Linked DNA regions of Homo sapiens: region 2 is linked to region 1. The links come from fine-mapping of genetic effects on gene expression. A gene starts in region 1. The other region holds a variant in brackets. All regions are shown on one strand. Distances are between the middles of the regions. Region 1 holds the start of BHLHE41 (basic helix-loop-helix family member e41). Region 2 has its middle 24 kb from the start of BHLHE41.

Region 1 (2,920 bases):
GGCGTTCTTCTCCCCTCGGTTCACTTATCACCGGCAATAATCAACGTTTCAGAGATCACCCCGGGGAGAATGTAAATATCCCTCTCTGTGCAGGAAAAACCTTGGTTTTTTTCTCTATGTCTTTATGTATATCTAGAGAAATATATATATAGCCTCCATCCCACCCCTGGGAGTCCCTCAGGACATGCCTTCCCCTGGGCTGGCAGGGCGGCGTGGGCAGTGCGCATCCCCGGGCACCTCCCGGTAACTCTCACTAGCAGTGAGTCATGCTCCCAGGGTGGCTCTGGGGAAAGGTAACCCGGCTCTTGCTGGCCTGTGATTCCCGGCGCCGAGCGCCGCGGCTGCAGGGCGAGCGCGCGCGCGCACGGGTTCCCCGAGCAGTGATGTGGCAGCAGCGGCAGGTCGGATCACGTTGCTGGCCCTGTGCTGGTACCCGTTTGAGACCGGATTAAGGAGGGAGGCTTTGGAGGTGCCAGCGGTAGTAAACGTGGGCTCTGCACACTCCGGGCGTCTCTTATCGCGCGGGGGGGCGGGGGGATGGGGAAAGCACGTAGCGTCACCGGAGGCTCAGAACGCGGCAGAGTTGAGCGGGCGGGTGATAAATGCTGCATAGCTTTTCTGTGGTAGCCCCTCTCGTGCCACCCCCTCTCGTGCCACCCCCTTCTCCCTTCCCAGCCCCCACTCAACCCCGGCTCGCTCCCCGCCGCGTTCCTCCAGGAGCACACGCGGCCCCAAACGTCGTCATCTGCTGCTGTGATTAGTGGCACCGCAATTCCGGCTGCTGCGGGGAAGTTTAGTTGGCCCAGGGACGCCGTGTCACCGAAAGACACTTGGATTGCGACATTCGGACCCAGTGACAACGTTTTCATGTATCTTAAATCCTTCAAGGAGCGGATTGCAAGTTGCTTCTTCTCGAGGCAACCTCTCCACCCAGCGCCAAGGAGTCCCTCCAGGCCACTGATCAGTGAGCAAACAAGTCTCCAAAATTTCCTTTGGGACTCAAGTTTACCCACCGCGAATTCTCTTTTCACTTCCTTTCTATGGTTCAAACCAACAGCACAATCGGTGGAAAAGCAAAAAGCCACGTTCACATTCCTGCACCGTAACAACGGACGAACCCAGGGAGTCGCATTTTGGAGCCAAGGAAGCTCAGGCTGCCCCGCACCCCTGCACCCCCACTCCCCCCTCCTCCTGCCGACTGCATCGCCTTTGGGAAGATGAATAGCTTGGCCGAAGTTGTTTTTCCTTTCCGGTGGCCCTGATCAGGTGTCCCCGCCCCCTCCTGCCGTTCGCCTTCTCTCGCCGCCTTCTCCCGACGCCCCCGCCCGGCCCGGCCCCTCCTCCCCCGCCCCCCTCCGGGCTGGACCGCGGATGGTACGTTCCGCACGTGAGCTGGGTGCTGGTCTGGCCGGCGACGCGCGTGCCCTGTGGCCAAACACTGCCTGGAGTGAGAGCAAACTACCAGCGCAGTGGGGCCGGCGCGAGTGTGCGTGTGTGTGCGTGTGTGTGTGCGAGCGCGGTGGAGGGGGGGGACCAACTGCTTCACACTTTCAACACTGCACTGAAGAGGGAGAGCGAGAGAGAGACTGGAGACGCACAGATCCCCCCAAGGTCTCCCAAGCCTACCGTCCCACAGATTATTGTACAGAGCCCCAAAAATCGAAACAGAGGAAACGAACAGCAGTTGAACATGGACGAAGGAATTCCTCATTTGCAAGAGAGACAGTTACTGGAACATAGAGATTTTATAGGGTAAGGTGCACGCACCCTTGCGAATATCTGTCTAGGCTTTGGTTTGATTTTTTTCTTCTCCAGAAAGTGGTATGGAGCTGGCGAGGGCAGAGCCCCTCCCCGAATGGGTGCCTGATGCTGATTTCTGTTTTGCAGACTGGACTATTCCTCTTTGTATATGTGTAAACCCAAAAGGAGCATGAAACGAGACGACACCAAGGTAAGTGTAAGTTCCCGATATTCCTCATAACCTGCATGGGTAGTTAATTAGAGCCATTGATTTCACAGTGAAGCTCTGCCCGCAAATATATTCCAGCCCCTGAGCTTCCCCAACTGTGAATTTTAAGTGGCTTGCTGGGTACTCTCAGGGGGATATTAAACATCATACCTGAATTTAAATTGCATTGCAGAACAGTCCAGAGGAAAGAGGTTTCTTGGGTGTAGTTTATCACATAGTATGTTTTATGGTGGGGGGGCGGGGGGGGCAGACGAGGGTAATATCCAATAAGTGAATGTTTCGCTTACTGTTTTCTCTTTTCCATGACTCTCATATATTAAGGATACCTACAAATTACCGCACAGATTAATAGAAAAGAAAAGAAGAGACCGAATTAATGAATGCATTGCTCAGCTGAAAGATTTACTGCCTGAACATCTGAAATTGACAGTAAGATGCACATTTTCATTCTTTGCTGCTCTCCAAGGGCGTGTTAATAGTCTGGTGCGACTCCCAGAAAATATAAGAATAAATGTAAATATAAGTTCCTGACTTAAAACTTGTGCTATACCGTACAGAGTTTCCCGCAAACTGGAGTAGGTGCTCCCAGCTGAAGGCAAGAAATCATTTATAACCTGTCTTGTGGAAAGCTCAAGAAGTAAAAGAACAGTACTTCTTTCAAAGTGTTTGCTTAAATTGCTGTGCTGAATGGACAGCCAATTAAGCCAAATGTGTGTTTTTAAGTAACCAAGTGCCCGTTTCTTTTTTGCACCACTGCAGACTCTGGGACATCTGGAGAAAGCTGTAGTCTTGGAATTAACTTTGAAACACTTAAAAGCTTTAACCGCCTTAACCGAGCAACAGCATCAGAAGATAATTGCTTTACAGAATGGTAAGTCAGTTCAGGGAGGCCAGCCTACCCTGATGAAGCGGGGCAGCCCACAGGGGAGCAGTGTCAGGACTCCCTCACCC
Region 2 (2,920 bases), 24 kb after region 1:
ACAGAACTCTGCTCTCTTAAGCTTTGTGCTCAGCATAACTCACCCCATTCTGCTTGAGTGTTCCTCTTGTAAATTCTGCTTAGATTCAAAAGACCAGGGGTTCAAATCCTGGCTCTACCACCTAATTGCATAAACATGGGAAAACCACTTATACATCTTTTTGTCTGTTTCCTTATCTATAGAATGGGGATGGTGATAAGATAAGGTCCACCTTACAGCATGCTGGGGTTCTGAGCTCGTTGAATGTTAAAGTCCTAAACAAACATTAGTTGTAATTGGTTCCTAGAGGGCAATCTCATCGACAGCATGAAATCAGAAATGAGACAGCTTCGCTCATGAGTCTCACTCATCAGCTTTGTGACATTAAGCAACTTACTTCTCAAAATTTATGTTTCGTCATCTGTAAAGAGGATGATTTTAATGAGAGTAGCATCTCTGTAGGACAGTTACAAGCATTAAATGACATAATCTAAGACCTCCTGCATGTCTTTTTGGGGGAGTTCAGTGGTCATGCAATACACTATGGAGAGACTAGAAGGAAGGCAGACAGGTGCAGTTTCCATTTGGCATCATGGGTCAGCATGCCCCAGTGGCATCAGGGTTCTTTCTTTGGCTGCAGAGCTGCATTCCCATGCTATGCTAATAACCTCTGCAAAACACAGTCGACCTGATCTTCCTGCTCTTTCCAGATAATGTGACCAACCTTTAGCCACCACTTGCTCACTTACCCGATAGGTTGTAAAACCAGTTTTTTTGGCATCTTGCCACCTCATCAGTGCTCACCTGCATATTTTTTTTCTGGGTTAGAGGATCATGAGTTCTTGGGTTCGCTGTGGTCAGAGTCAATAGCTGTCTATCAGGAAGTTGCTTTATTAATGAGATAATTCAGAATTTCTTCCGGAACTTCAATCTGTTGCTGGGTAACAACCTGTACCTAAAATCTACACAGATCTTCAATTATCGCTTAGTTAGGAACATGCTAGGATTGCCCGGCTGTCAAACACTCTTAATTGCACTAGGACCGGTTAGTATCTCATGCATTTGGAGCACAAAAGCACTGAGCAAAGCATATGACTGTCTGGTCAAGTCAAGCCCGCCGTTCCAACATTAGGCAATTGTTTCCATGAACAGTTTTCACGCTTCTGATATGGAAAAGAGATATGATCATGGCTATTATTTGCTTTGTGTTTCTAATATGCTGAGCAGTGTTTTAAGCATATAACAACTGCTAATTCATTTAATTTATGAGGTAAATGTTATCATATAAAGAAACCTATGTGCTCAGAGGTTAAGCAACATGCTCCTAGTCATACAGCCACCCTTCACTAGGCTATTTTGCCTACTGTTATTTCAAAAGCTGGGGACAGGGGAAATAACATTAATTTGTTTCTCATAATGGCAGAAGACCGTTTCTTTCTGTTACTAAATTTACTATGAAGAATTTCATTGCAAATAGTTATGCAA[G/A]AGACCTTTTACAGCTATACTAATTTAACAGTGATGTAATCTTGATTCTAAAAAATATATATTTGGGTCAGAAAGAGTCTCACCATTTCCTTTATTGTATTTTCCCCCAATATGAAAATTGTTTTGTAAAGTTTTAGCATTTTTTCCCTTTCATATCTACTCTGATTGGCTTTCGGGACCAATACGAGTTACAAATTAGATGCTTCCAAAATATCTAGTTGAACATTTCACTCAGTCAATTGTTTTGTTGCCTAATGTAATATCCATTTGTTCCCCCAGAGAGAGATTTTCTTCAGTGTAGCAATGATTTTGGTGCTTTTCAGACACGATCAATTTAATAGCAAAATGCCTTACACCTCACAGGTACATAGTAATACTTAACAAATGAAATAATGAATGAGTTAATATGAACTTTTGACAATCCTATATTTATATCCACATCACATAGGAATGCTCAGCTTACAACTGTCTTTTAAAGAACATTATTAATCAGAATAAAACTTACTTCATGGGCCTAGCTACTAATAATTTCTTATTACTGACCATTTCCTTCTTTTAAGTGGTAGGATGGATAGGAAAGAGGGAGGAATAGTGAGGAATTCACAAATGAAAGAGAGACCCTTAGAATCTTGGTTCTCAAGCTTATGAGAACTAAAGGTCCCCTTTTATAACAAATATTTTCTTATGCTCCTTTACTAGCTTAAAATGAAATTTATAGAAAATATAGTCTGTAATGCACATTAATTTTAAAAAATATAACTATCATATATCAATAATATTATTAAAATAATGTAATGCCTTAACTTTGATATAAAGGAGAAATAAAAGAAATTATATATATAATTATATATAATAATATATAAATATATATATATTTAAGTATGGAAAGGCACAGATGGTAGCTATGCTACAAAATGTAATGAAGTAGTCAGGTGCTTATACTGTTAATATATTGATGCCAATATATTACCTTCAAGTTGACTCTTCTTTTCATATTTGACATTTTGAATAAAGAATAAAAAGTATATTTAAATGTATACTTAGAACCACCTTGAATCAAGAGCTACAAACACAGATTGTTATCAGTTTATTCTATTGGTGACTCAGTTCCAGAAGTTAAGATGCTCCTGTGAAATGAACTTCAAAGATGGTTAACAAACCTGGGTAAAGTTCTGAGTTAAATAAAGCATAATCTCTCCTCAACTCAACTGGTAGTTGTATTCTTGGAACACTCAATTTTATTAAAATGATGCTAGGGCTGTGAATGGTGGCCTGCATCTGTAATTCCAGCACTTTGGGAGGCTGAGGTGGGAGATTGCTTAAGCCCAGGAGATCAAGGCTGCAGTGTGCCATGATCTTGCCACTGCACTCCAGCCTGGGCATGAGATCTTGTCTCTAAAAACAAAAAGAGAGGAAAAAAAACCATGCTAAAAACAATTTATGCTTATATGTAAAA

Evidence for each region.
Region 2: its variant is fine-mapped to the expression of BHLHE41 in lung (TOPMed, PIP above 0.99).

Annotation. Positions count from the first base shown.
Region 1 is chr12:26,123,550-26,126,469 of GRCh38, reverse strand. BHLHE41 (basic helix-loop-helix family member e41) reads left to right here and starts at 1,433. Exons shown (of 5, transcript NM_030762.3): 1 at 1,433-1,752; 2 at 1,888-1,951; 3 at 2,291-2,398; 4 at 2,729-2,840. The coding sequence starts at 1,691. It also overlaps a transcript of SSPN not described here. RefSeq lists a silencer at 1-21.
Region 2 is chr12:26,099,318-26,102,237 of GRCh38, reverse strand. No RefSeq gene overlaps it. Among named protein-coding and RNA genes, the nearest start is that of BHLHE41, 24 kb to the left of the region's middle. The variant G/A (reference allele first, on the strand shown) is at 1,465.